2 linked regions of the Homo sapiens genome follow. The protein of the gene in region 2 purifies or fractionates together with the protein of the main gene of each other region. This does not show direct contact. Each region holds a gene or a part of one and is shown on either strand. Other genes may lie near its edges.

Region 1 (7,036 bases), on a different chromosome or scaffold from region 2:
TTCTCCTGGTTATAGGTCACATTATTTTCTGCTTTTTGGCATATCTAGTAATTTATGATTGGATGCCAAGCATTGTGAGTTTCTGAGCATTTGGATTGTATTGTCTTCCTTTAAAGTTTGTTTTGGCTGACAGTAAGTTATATACTTGCTATCAGCTTGTGTTTTTTTTTTTTAAGCCTTATTAGGGTGTGTCTAAAATACTTCTACTCTAACACTAGTTTACTTTTTTTTTTTCTTTTGTGAGACAGGATCTTGCTGTCACCCAGGCTAGAGTGCAGTGGCACAATCATGGCTACTGCAGCCTTGAACTCCTGGGTTTAAGCAATCCTCCTGTCTCACTCTCCTGAGTAGCTGAACCACAGGTGCATACCACCATGCTAGGCTAATTTTTAAATTTTAGGGTCTCCCTTTGTTGCCCTGGCTAGTTTATCTTTTTTTTTTTTTTTTTTTTTTTGAGACAGAGTTTTTGCTCTTGTCACCCAGGCTGGAGTGCAATGGCGCAATCTCGGCTCACCGCAACCTCCACCTCCTGAGTTCAAGCGATTCTCCTGCCTCAGCCTCCCAAGTAGCTGGGATTACAGGCATGCACCTCCACTCCTGACTAATTTTGTATTTTTTTTAGTAGAGACGGGGTTTCTCCATGTTGGTCAGACTGGTCTGGAACCCCCGACCTCAGGTGATGCGCCCGCCTTGGCCTCCCAAAGTACTAGGATTACAGGTGTGAGCCACCACACCCAGCCTAGTTTATCTTTAATATCAAGACATGTTCATCTAGGGTCTCTACTGTTTGAGTATTCACTCAGGTCTCTCTACCCTGTCTGGACAGAGTTAGCCTCCCAGGTATTCCTGTACCACTTATTCTTCAAGGCCAGGATCTGATATCTCAGTGGAATATTCTGATACAGAACATGTGATACATCTGATATTCTGAAACATCTGAAACAATGTATGAGAAACAGCTTTCATTAAAAACTACAAGTACCCATACAACCTTTCTGTTTCTCACTTTCAGTACGGTGTTCAATAAATTGCATGAGATTATTCTACACTTTATTGTAAAATAGATTTTGTGTTAGATGATTTGGCCCAACTGTAGGCTGATGTAAGTGTTCTAAGCATAAGTAAGGTAGCCCAGGCTGAGCTAGGAGAATCGCTTGAACCCGGAAGGCAGAGGTTGCAGTGAGCTGAGACTGTGCCATTGCACTTCAGCCTGGGTGACAGAGAGACTCCATCTCAAAACAAAAAACAAAAAACAGTGGCTTTATTGGGATGTAACTCCATCATTAGTCAAGGAGCATCTGTGTATATCTTTTGATACCACACTATGGTATTTGATCCTCACCACGACCAGTTAAGTGGGTAGTATAATCTTCATTTTATAGGGAAAGGTAGCAAGGCCCAGGGAAGTTGGTTTTGTGACATGTTCTTAAGTGGCAGAGCTGGGTCTTGAGCCCAGATCTTCTGGTTTCGTTAGTCATGCCCTTTAAGCTCCTTGAGAACAGAGAGAACAGTTTTTCACAGAGTGTTTTCTCAATTATGTGGCTCACATTGAACATATCTCAAATCAGGAAGATATATCTTCACATAGAAATATATGGGATCATTTGTTTTTCTTTCAGAAAAGCTGTCATTGAATCAGTTGTAGTGCCTCTGAAATCACTGTTGTAGAATCAAGGAAATATATAGATCTCTCTCCAGTGCCTAATAGAGCCTTTATACATAATATATGCCTGGTAAATGTTTGTATGCTAAGTTCAAGAATAAGCTGATTTTATAAAGCAAAATGTGCTTCTAAAAGTTGTATGCCTGTGCTTGTCTCTGCAGGTATTTTATGCATGGTGTGTGTCGGGAAGGAAGTCAGTGCCTATTCTCACATGACTTGGCAAACAGCAAACCGTCCACCATCTGCAAGTACTACCAGAAGGGCTACTGTGCCTATGGAACTCGGTGCAGGCAAGGACTCTGCAACAGATTCCAGCTGTGACACTGATTTCATTTGGAGAATGGGTCTTGATAAGGGGGAAATTTTAATGTAAAAGTAATATGGCAACATCACAAAAAGTATGGCAAATAAGTTTAAAACCTCAGTTTCAGTACCCTAAAACTAATTTTCTTTTCTTTTTTTTTTTGAGATAGAGTCTCTCACTGTTGCCCAGGCTGGAGGGCAGTGGTGCGATCTCAGTTCTCTGCAACCTCCGCCTCCAGGGTTCTCCTGCCTCAGCCTCCCAAGTAGCTGAGATTACAGGCATCTGCCACTACGCCTGGCTGATTTTTTTTTTTTTTGTATTTTTAGTAGAGATGGGGTTTCACCATGTTGGTCAGGCTGGTCTCTAACTCCTGACCTCGTGATCCTCCCGCCTCAGCTTCCCAAAGTGCTGGAATTACAGGCGTGAGCCACCGTGCCTGGCCTAATTTTCATTTTTTAAAACTACTTTTCAGCCTTATTCTTATGAATATATAGTTATAAAATTGTACACAATTCCGGAAACTTGTTCATGCTTTTGTAGCAAAGAGCCGATCTTTTCTTTCTAGACTGCAAAGCTTCCTTCCCTCCTTTTTCTCTGCAGTGCAGTGGGAGATGATGGAAGTAGGCCCACGTTGGTCTTCCCCTGTCAATGAGTGCCAAGAGAGACAGTCAGGGAGAGATCATTGGCCCTTGTCAGCATTTTGGGGACTCCTGCTCAAAAGAATACTGGGTCAGTCAGGCATCAGGAGATTTTAGCTCAACATCTGTTTGGAACTTTCAGGTTCTCTGTGTGGTCTGGTGCTGTGTGTCTGTCCCACTCAAGTCCCACAGAGACACTTAAGCATAGGTGATAGATAGCAAATGTCCCCCTCACAATGAATTGCCAAGCATCTGTTAATAATCGATAATCCTGTTAGAGTTTAAATATTGGAAAAGATGGCCGCCTTCTTCACCTCAACAAGTGCAGCAGAAGGAGGGCCATTGGCATCTGGGGAGTGTGGGAGATGTGTGTGGGTGGCATGTCTGTAATGCATCTGCTGTGTGTTTTGTTTAGATATGACCACACGAGGCCCTCTGCTGCAGCTGGAGGTGCTGTGGGCACCATGGCCCACAGTGTGCCCTCCCCAGCTTTCCACAGTCCTCACCCTCCTTCCGAGGTCACTGCATCCATTGTGAAAACTAACTCACATGAACCCGGAAAGCGTGAAAAGAGAACATTGGTTCTTAGAGACCGAAGTGAGTAAGCGGAAGCCTTTTGTTGCGTCTTTTTGCATAGCACTCTTGTTAATGCTTGGTGCTCCTTTCTAGCCTCCTCTTGTCAAGAGGACTCCTAACCTAATACACCTCCAGATTGTCTGCGCGGAGAGACTTCAGAACTGTTCTGAAGAGGCTCCATGTGGCTGCAGATCATTCAAATGATACATTCGCCCTCGTGCCCAAGGCTGGGTTGAGCTCCAAGACTGGCCTGGTAAAACATAAAAACACAATCTTTTTGTCAACATGTAACTTCCATCTTCATATGGTGGTTGTCCAGCTGGTGAGAAGCATCAAGCTCTTCATTTCAAACGTAAATATTTTGTCTGGGTAAAGTGGCTCACACCTATAACCCCAACACTTTGGGAGGCTGAGGCGGGTGGATCACCTGAGGTCAGGAGTTCGAGACCAGCCTGGCCAACATGGTTTAGTAGAAACCCTGTCTCTACTAAAAATACAAAAATTAGCCGGGTGTAGTGGCAGGTGTCTGTAATCCCAGCTACTTGGGAGGCTGAGGCAGGAGAATTTCTTGAACCCGGGAGGCAAAGATTGTAGTGAGCTGAGATCACGCCACTGCACTCCAGCCTGGATGACAAGAGTGAGACTCCCTCTCAAAAAAAAAAAAAAAAAAAAGAAAACTAAATATTTTGCTAAAGAGCATGTTTCACTGTTTGACTTTTAGGCCAGTGAATGGTCTTAGTTTTTATGCTGACAGTGTTTGACAGTTTAGATTGCACCTTTGGGAAAAGAATAGCACACTAGGGTTTGGGGCATGGTCTGTGCCTTAAAACAGGGTTTGATGAGGAAGAAAGCTACAAATTGTAAAAGTTTTTTTGTTGTGTTTTTTGTTTGTTTTGTTTTTGTTTTTTTTTTGGAGATGGAGACTCGCTCTGTCGCCTAGGCTGCAGTGCAGTGGCATGATCTCCACCTCCCGGGTTCAAGGGATTCTCTTGCCTCAGCCTTCTGAGTAGCTGGGAATACAGGTGCCCACCACCATGCCCAGCTAATTTTTGTATTTTTAGTAGAGACAGTGTTTCACTATGTTGGCCAGGCTGGTCTCAAACTCTTGGTCTCATGATCCGCCCGCCTCGGCCTCCCAAAGTGCTGGGATTACAGGCAAGAGCCACTGCACCTGGCCATAAAAGTTGTTTTTATTGGCTGGTCCTCACCAGGTGAAGAGATTTCTAGTTCTTGGAATTGGCTACCATGAGGTAGGCAGATTCTGTCCTCAGCAAATGAGTAATCCTGTGAGAATACGTGACCTCTAAACAAGCTCGGAGGTGTGCAGTGGGAAGGCAGCAGCTCCTGGCGTGAGAAGGGGTGACCATGGGGCAGTTTACACTGGCCTCAGGACCCACAGATTTGCTCTAGACATCTATTCTAGTTCACTTAAAATGATTTTACCTTTGCTGGTATGAAGGAAACACTGTGTTCTAGTGCTCTCACTGTTTTTTTGTTTGTTTTAGTGTTAACTGGTCCATGTGTTAACATTTCCATATTTGCCATTTTAAACGGCTTTAGTGTTCTTTTGTATAAGTATATCCTATTGTTTTGCTATTTCCCTGTCTTGCCATTTTTGTTTTTTGTTTTTTGTTTTTTTAAGTAATTATAAGTAATGTCACTATGAACATTTTATACTATTCCTTTTATTTTTCCCCTTCGGTGTGTTTTTTTTGCCATATGTTCTCAAGAGTGGAATTCTTAGGTCAGAGTAGCTTAATATGTTAGGCTTTGGCTAACGGCATACCAGAAAAATGGGGCCATTTTCATGTGCATGTGTGCTGTGTGTTGTTTTCAGATCTCTCTGGCATGGCTGAAAGGAAGACCCAGCCGAGCATGGTGAGTAATCCAGGCAGCTGCAGCGACCCCCAGCCCAGCCCCGAGATGAAGCCGCATTCCTACCTGGATGCCATCAGGAGTGGCCTTGATGACGTGGAGGCCAGCAGCTCCTACAGCAACGAGCAGCAGCTGTGCCCCTACGCAGCTGCTGGGGAGTGCCGGTTTGGGGATGCCTGTGTCTACCTGCACGGGGAGGTGTGTGAAATCTGTAGGCTGCAAGTCTTGCACCCATTCGACCCAGAGCAGAGGAAGGCTCATGAAAAGGTAAAGTCACAAACCTTTGCATGAACTCATGTTAAGAAATCTGAAATGTACTGAACAGGACACGGAAGGCCATCCATATACACTCAAGAAATCTGAAATGTACTAAGTGACAGAATTGTTGGTATTTCCACAGGCATCCCCCTGCCAGTAATACCCATATTATGTATCTGGTATATTTACATCCTGTTTTCAGGTTCTTTTTCCTGCAGTCATTTTGCCATTTTTTTTTTTTAATGGAGTCTCCCTCTCACCCAGGCTGGAGTACAGTGGTGCAATCTCGGCTCACTGCAACCTCTGCTTCCCTGGCTCAGGTGATCCTCCTGCCTCAGCCCCACCGAGTAGCTGGGATTACAGGCGCCCACCACCACACCCGGCTACTTTTTGTATTTTTAGGAAAGATGGGGTTTCACCACGTTGGCCAGGCTGGTCTCGAACTCCTGACCTCAAGTTGTCCGCCTGCCTTGGCCTCCCAAAGTGCTGGGATTACAGGCATGAGCCACCATGCCCGGCCTATTTTGCCAATTTTTAATTACTCAGAATAAAGAGAAAAAGAAGTCGTATCTGAAATATAAAATCATGCTAAGTTCAAAGAACAGATCTAGCTCAGGACCATGGTATGTCGTCTGTGTGTATGTCTCTATCACATGCAGATACAGCATCCTCCCTCCCTGGGTTCACACTTCCTCATGGTTGGGATCCAGCTAGGTGAAGTTTTGGAAGATTTGAGCCCAAATCATAGAATCTGAGGAGCCACTTGTTGGAAGGGCCTTTTAAAGTCATTAATGTCTGCAGTGTTTTGGGAGGCTTTGCCTTATGCTAGGCCCTATGCATGATGCAGAGGGTACGAAGCTGGATAAGAGGCGGGGGAGGGCCAGGCATGGTGACTCACACCTGTAATCCCAGCACTTTGGCAGGCCAAGGCAGGCAGATTGCTTGACCCCAGGAGTTTGAGACCAGCCTGGGCAACATGGTAAGATCCCCGTCTCTACAAAAAAAAAAAAATACAAACATTAGCCAGGTGTGGTGGTGCACACCTGTAGTCCCAGCTACTCGGCAGGACTGAGGTGGGAGGATCACCCGAGCCTGGGAAGCAGAGGTTGCAGTGAGCCAAGATTGTGCCACTGCACTACAGCCTGGGCAATAAGAGTGAGACCCTGTCTCAAGAAAAATAATAATAAAAAAATTTAAAAATGCCAGGTGTGGTGGCTTGGCTAACTTTTAAAATTTTATTTTATTTTGGCTGGGCACAGTGGCTCACGCCTGTAATCCCAGCACTTTGGGAGGACGAGGCAGGCGGATCACAAGGTCAGGAGATTGAGACCATCCTGGCTAACATGGTGAAACCCCGTCTCTACTAAAAATACAAAAAGTTAACTGGGTGTGGTGGCGGGCGCCTGTAGTCCCAGCTACTTGGGAGGCTGAGGCAGGAGAATAGTCTGAACCCAGGAGGTGGAGCTTGCAGCGAGCTGAGATTGCACCACCGCACTCCAGCCTGGACGACAGAGAGAGACTCTGTCTCAAAAAAAAAAAAAAATTATTTTATTTTTCAGAGGTGAGGTCTTGCTATGTTGCTTAGGCTGGTCTTGAACTCCTGAGATCAAGCAGTCCTCTTACCATGGCCTCCCAGAGTAATGGGATTACAGGTGTGAGCCACTGCACCTGGCCTAAGGCATGTTTAAATGGACAGCGTATTCCTAGATAATCAAGAGGTAA
Region 2 (7,036 bases):
ATATCACAGAGGTAACTACTACATTTTAGTATATTTCTTTCGAAACATATACACACACAAACATATTTCTTGTTTATGTATACAATTGACCCTTGAACAACATAAAGTTTAGCGGCACTGATCCTCTGTGCAGTCAAAAATCCACGTATAAGCTTTGACTCCCCAAAAGCTTAACTACTAATAACGTACTGTAAGAGAAAAGAAAATGTTAAGAAAATCATAACGGATCAGGCGCGGTGGCTCACGCCTGTAATCTCGGCACTTTGGGAGGCTGAGGCGGGTGGATCACAAGGTCAGGAGTTCGAGACCAACCTGGCCAATGTGGTGAAACCCCATCTCTACTAAAAATACAAAAAAAATTAGCCGGGCTTGGTGGTGCATGCCTGTAATCCCAACTACTGTGGAGGCTGAGGCAGGAGAATTGCCTGAACCCAGGAGGCCGAGGTTGCAGTAAGCCGAGATGATGCCACTGCACTCCAGCCTGGGCAACAGAGCAAGACTTCATCTCAAAAAAAAAAAAAAAAAGAAAAAGAAAATCATAAGGATAAGAAAATATATTGACCATTCACATAGTGGAAGTGGATCATCATAAAAGTCTTCATCCTTATTGTCTTTATGTTGAGTAGCAGAGGGATAGGTGGGTGTGGTCTTGCTGTCTCAGGAGTGGCAGAGGCGGAAGAAAATCCCTGTACAAGTGGCCCCTGTACAAGTGGACCCTGTACAGCTGTGTGTACAGTTGACCTTTGAACAGAACTGCAAGGGTCCACTTGTACAGGGATGTATAAGTTGTTCTATGTGTGTATATATGTATACCTATGTGTCCGGAATTGGTGGGTTCTTGGTCTCACTGACTTCAAGAATGAAGCCACGGACCCTCGCGGTGAGTGTTACAGTTCTTAAAGACATCGTGTCCGGAGTTTGTTCCTTCTGATGTTCAGATGTGTTCGGAGTTTATTCCTTCTGGTGGGGTCCGTGGTCTCGCTGGCTCAGGAGTGAAGCTGTGGACCTTCGCGGTGAGTGTTACGGCTCTTAAGGCGGCCCGTCTGGAGTTGTTTGTTCCTCCCAGTGGGTTCGTGGTCTCGCTGGCTTCAGGAGTGAGGCTGAAGACCTTCGCGGTGAGTGTTACAGCTCATAAAGGCAATGTGGACCCAAAGAGTGAGCAACAGCAAGATTTATTGCAAACAGCAAAAGAACGAAGCTTCCACAGTGTGGAAGAGGAGCTGAGCGGGTTGCCACTGCTGGCTGGGGCAGCCTGCTTTTATTCTCTTATCTGGCCCCACCCACATCGTGCTGATTGGTTCATTTTACAGAGAGCCAAGTGGTCTGTTTTGACAGGGTGCTGATTGGTGCGTTTACAATCCCTGAGCTAGACACAAAGGTTCTCCAAGTCCCCACTAGATTAGCTAGATACAGAGTGTGGACACAAAGGTTCTCCAAGTCCCAACCAGAGTAGCTAGATACAGTGTTGATTGGTGTATTTACAAACCCTGACCTACACACAGGGTGCTGATTGGTGTGTTTACAAACCTTGAGCTAGACACAGAGTGCTGATTGGTGTATTTACAATCCCCTAGCTAGACATAAAGGTTCTCCAAGTCCCCACCAGACTCAGGAGCCCAGCTGGCCTCACCCAGTGGATTCCACACCAGGGCCACAGGTGGAGCTACCCGCCAGTCCCGCGGTGTGTGCCCACACTCCTCAGCCCTTGGGTGGTCGATGGGACTGGGTGCCGGTGGAGCAGGGGGTGGCGCTCCTCGTGGAGGCTCAGGCTGCTCAGGAGCGCACGGAGGTGAGGGGGAGGCTCAGGCATGGCGGGCTGCAGGTCCCGAGCCCTGCCCCGCAGGGAGGCAGCTAAGACCCGGCAAGAAATCCAGCGCAGCGCCGGTGGGCCGGCACTGCTGAGGACCCAGCACACCCTCCGCAGCCGCTGGCCCGGGTGCTAAGCTTCTCATTGCCCGGCAGGGCCAGCCGGCAGCTCTGAGTGTGGGGCCCACCAAGCCCACGCCCACTCGGAACTCCAGCTGGCCAGCAAGGGCCCTGGGTAGCTCTGGTTGCCACTCGCGCCTCTCCCTCCACACCTCCCTGCAAGCTGAGGGAGCCAGCTCAGGCCTTGGCCAGCCCAGAAAGGGGCTCCCACAGTGCAGCGGTGGGCTGAAGGTCTCCTCAAGTGCCACCAAAGTGGGAGCCCAGGTAGAGGAGGTACCCAGAGCGAGTGAGGAATGTGAGGGCTGCCAGCAAGCTGTCACCTCTCACCTATACATATATACGTATACATATATATGATTAGGATCATAATCTAGTTTTTCTTTGTTTTTTGTTTTGTTTTGTTTTTTTGAGACAGAGTTTCGCTCTTTGTTGCCCAGGCTGGAGTGCAGTGGCGCCATCTCAGCTCACTACAGCCTCGGCTGGCCTTCCGGGTTCAAGCGATTCTCCAGTCTCAGTCTCCCGAGTAGCTCGGATTATAGGCATATGCCACCACGCCGAGCTAATTTTGGTATTTTTAGTAGAAACAGGGTTTCGCCGTGTTGGCCCGGCTGGTCTTGAACTTCTGGCCTCAGGTGATCCACCGGCCTTGGTCTCCCAAAGTGCTGGGACTACAGGCGTGAGCCACCGCGCCCGGCTGTAATCCAGTTTTTTTTGTTTTTGCTTTTGTTTTTGTTTTTGTTTTGAGACGGAGTCTCGCTTTGTTGCCCAGGCTGGAGTGCAGTGGCGCAGTCTTGGCTCACTGCAACCTCTGCCTCCCAAGTTCAAGCAATTCTCCTGCCTCAGCCTCCCGAGTAGCTGGGATTACAGGCTCATGCCACCACACCCGGCTAATTTTTTGTATTTTTAGTAGAGAGGGGGTTTCACCATGTTAGCCAGGATGGTCTCAATTTCCTGACCTCGTGATCCATCCGCCTCAGCCTCCCAAAGTGCTGCAACTACAGGCGTGAGCCACCGTGCCCGGCCCTAGTTTTATATTCTAATTTTTGCTTTCAGTTTGTCTCTGGTACTAAAAATATTAGAATGAACACCCTTATACATAGCAACCTTTGTTTACATATATAACTATTTCCCAAGGTTAAATCCTATAAATTGTATTATAAGTCACAGGATATGAATGTTTTTCAGGCTTGTGATGCTTATTAACAATTATCCCTCCCAGAAAACTTGTACCATTTTAATTCCCTTAACGGTAATTTAGGAAATGATACATTTCACCACATTTGGAACAACAGTAAATACCAGCTTTTAAAATTTCTGCCAGTCTGATAAGTAAAGCATTTTATCTCTATTTTAAGTTGCATTTAACTTTATTTCATTTATTTACTATTTGATTTTTTTTGTGTGTGAATTGCCTGTTCATTATCTTTGCCCAAATTCATTTACTTTTCTCATTTATTTGTAAGAGCTATTTGTACATTAGGGCATTAGTTCTTCTCTTGTCATATATGTTAAAATTGCAATTTTCCTAGTGTACCATTTGCCTTGTAATTTTGCTTAGTATAGTTTCTGGCAGAATTTTTAAAATAAAAGTTTGAATATAAATGTAGTCAAATCTTTCTCCTGTGTTTGTTGTTCATTCTACGCCACTTATCTTTAGAAAATCTTCCCCATTTAAAGATCAGAATAACCAACTATATTTTACTGTAATTTTACACTTTATTAAACATTAAGTAGAGTGTAGGCTTTAAGTTTCTTCCTCATGGTTATGAAAATTTTCTAATCAACATTAGATATTTTCTTGTTTAGCACCTCTAGCTTTACTATCAAAATTATTGGCATTTATTTTAAAGATTCCGATTGATTCCTCACTTCAGGTTTTACAGACATTTCACCAGAGGAATTGAGGCTTGAATACCATAACTTCTTAACCAGCAATAACTTACAGAGTTATGTAAGTTTGTTTCCTATTAATCTACTGCAATAACAGATGAGCTCTTAATTACTGCTTTCTTTATCGTGGCTTGTGTTTTGGCAAAACCGATGAGGTCTATGATCTTTTTTCAGGAGTAGGCTATTTTTCTTTTCTATATTATTTTCATTGAATTTGGTTGGTTATTAAAATGATAATATATTTTTACTTTAATAATTAGGAATATTACTATTTTTATTATAAATTACCCAACAGTCAATCCCAGAAATGAAACCCTTTTATCATTTGACAGATATTTATTGAACATCTGTTAGGTACCAATCCAGTGATGAATGCTAGAAAAACAAAGTTAAATAAGATACAGTCTGTAATACAGATTAACATCCTCATATATCAAATATCAAAAAAAATTAAAAATCTTGACTAGAATAAGTTGAGTACCTGAAGGAAGCAGTTTAAATGCTGTATTTTTCTGTTTCTACAGTCATGATCATGCATTTCAACTAGTACATGTATTCACCGCCCATCCAAATATAACTAACTACGTGCTGCCAGGTACTTGTGATACTAACCAGATGATACAAGGAGTTGAACGGGAGAGGGAACTGGAGCTGGCATATCTTTGACAAATAGGCCAAGTCAATGCAAATTTTGCAAGTCATGGGCCATAAAACTGTTACATAAACCTTTTGTGATTTTGGCAAAGAAGTATGTGAAGTTTTTATTGAAGAAACTAACTTAAACATACAATATTGAACTGTTATTTTTCTGTCTTCCGTTTTCAGCTAAATTCTGTCCAACGTTTAATAAATCAATGGAGGAACAGGGTAAATGAACTGAAAAGTCTAAATATATCAACTAAAGTAGCTTTGGTGAGTATGGGAGAGTTTTCTTGAGGGAAGTGTCTTACCTATTGCTTTTTTGCAGAGGATATTTTACTTTAGATTTGGAAAGCAAAACAAAAATTTTCTATCAAGAATTATGATACACACATTCCCAAAATAGCATCACTTAAGAGTCAGGGTCTTGAAATAGTTTTCTCTGTGTTCCTTGGTCAGAAAAGCAGAAATAGTTATGCTTTTTAAAAGCTTTTTAGGGTAAAGTTTTTAACTTTGGTAGTGCTAGTTTTGAAAATGGCAAACTATTACATAAGTTTAAGTATTTAAGGTTATCTGTATGTAAAAAGAAATTACTTTGAACAGTTATATGAATGCACATTTAGAATGTAATGTATCGTTTTGCGACTGAAGAACACAGTATGTTCCTTGTCTTAAACAGAAATGCCTTTGGAAGATATATACCCACCTGTCTCCAAAGATCTATGGTCCCGACTGTGGCAAGTTCATTATCTTTGTAAATAAAGTTATGATGTTTCTACACCCATTAAAAAGTTCTTAAGAATTTTATTTTAAAATAAGATATTCACATTTATAATTTTAATATTTCCAATTTCTCAGATGGTTTCTACTCTGTATAAGGATATGAGAGTAATGTCTCCCTACACTTAGTGAATGGTTGACAGTCCCAACACCCCACCCCTTTCTTAAATATGTGCTTCCTGAATAACTAGACTCTTGTGCAAGCTAATTTCTTTCATCTTTTAGTTCTTGTAATGCTATTTGAATTTAGTGGGACCTCTTGGAAGTAGTCTGTCCTTGTGTGAGAGGTGGCCCACCATCACCATGGATGAGAGCTGATGGAGAAAGGATAACTGAGTCCAAAGAACTGTGGAACTTCCCTCAGGGCTGGAAGGTCCCTGCTCCTTGCTAACTGCCCAGGGCCCCTTCCATAGGTTAGAATGTGGGACAACCCACCCATAGCTGACTTAACATGTATCAGGAGTTCATGCCTTCTTTATACTGAATGGTAACCCATTGTATGGATATAATTTGTTTATCATCTGCCTGTTAATGAATATTACACTGAGGGAGAGAAACCAGACCAAAAAAAAAAAAATAGTGTAGACCATGTGATTCCATTTGTATGAAACTCTGGAAAAGACAAGTCTCATTTGTAGTGATAGAAAGCAGACAGAGTGGTTGCCAGGGACCAGGAGCAAGAATGCTTTTGAGGGCTGGGTGCAGTGGCTCACGCCTGTAATCCCAGCACTTCGGGAGGCTGAGGCAGGCGGATCACAAGGTCAGGAGTTTAAGACCAGCCTGACCAACATGGTGAAACCCGGTCTCTACTAAAAATACAAAAATTAGCCAGGCATGGTGGCACACGCCTGTAATCCTAACTACTCAGGAGGCTGAGGCAGGAGAATCACTTGAACCCAGGAGAGGTTGCAGTCTCAAAAACAAAAGCATTCTTTTTTTTTTTTTTTTTTTTTTTTTGAGGCAGAGTCTCACTCTGTCACCCAGGCTGGAGTGCAGTGGTGCCATCTCAGCTCACTGCAAGCTCCGCCTCCCGGGTTCACGCCATTCTCCTGCCTCAGTCTCCCGAATAGCTGGGACTACAGGCACCCACCACCACGCCCAGCTTTTTTGTATTTTTAGTAGAGACGGGATTTCACCATGTTAGCCAGGATGGTCTCGATCTTCTGACCTCATGATCCGCCCGCCTCAGCCTCCCAAAGTGCTGGGATTACAGGCGTGAGCCACCACACCGGCCAAAGAATGCTTTTGAGGCTTCCAAATGAAAGAAATCGCTTATGTTTGCTTTGGATGATTAAGAAAGTCTTCTTGAAAGGAAGGAGCAAATACAAAGTTCCTTGAAAGTAGGATTAAGATTTCAGTAAGCAGAGATGAAAGACATTTCTAGAGCACAGAACAGCAAGAACATAAAGTACTTTCAGGGAATGGGAAATGTTTAATGGATTTTTAGTCATAAGCTTTTAATTATATAATAGTGGATCTACTTCGAGTATTAGACTGGGTATTCTATAAAGGTCCTTTTTACCTAATATCTAGATTTCTTGATAAATGCAGATCTACCCTTATAGACACTGAAAAAAATTTAAAAATATTTTTCTGATTATAATATCTGCTCATTGTAGAAATTTAGAAAGTATAAAAAAGCATAAATAAAATTTAAATCACCTGTAATTTATCAGCCAGAGATAATCACTGTTAACTTACTAATGTACATTTTTTATGCATATTCATATTACTAGTTGTGATTATACTGTTTATACAGTATTATGTCTTATCCTTTTCAACATCATATTATGGGCATTTT

What was found. The genes of interacting proteins can lie anywhere in the genome.
Region 1: the proteins of NUP42 (region 2) and MKRN2 purify together in Homo sapiens (affinity purification with mass spectrometry; 2 studies listed by BioGRID and IntAct, with this or other methods). This does not show direct contact.

Annotation. Positions count from the first base shown.
Region 1 is NC_000003.12:12,567,051-12,574,086, forward strand, and holds part of MKRN2 (E3 ubiquitin-protein ligase makorin-2), read left to right. Parts: intron 1-1,824; coding exon 1,825-1,953; intron 1,954-3,020; coding exon 3,021-3,202; intron 3,203-5,018; coding exon 5,019-5,323; intron 5,324-7,036. UniProt on the Homo sapiens protein: E3 ubiquitin ligase catalyzing the covalent attachment of ubiquitin moieties onto substrate proteins.
Region 2 is NC_000007.14:23,192,039-23,199,074, forward strand, and holds part of NUP42 (nucleoporin NUP42), read left to right. Parts: intron 1-3,800; coding exon 3,801-3,877; intron 3,878-4,641; coding exon 4,642-4,728; intron 4,729-5,134; coding exon of another isoform or gene 5,135-5,209; intron 5,210-7,036.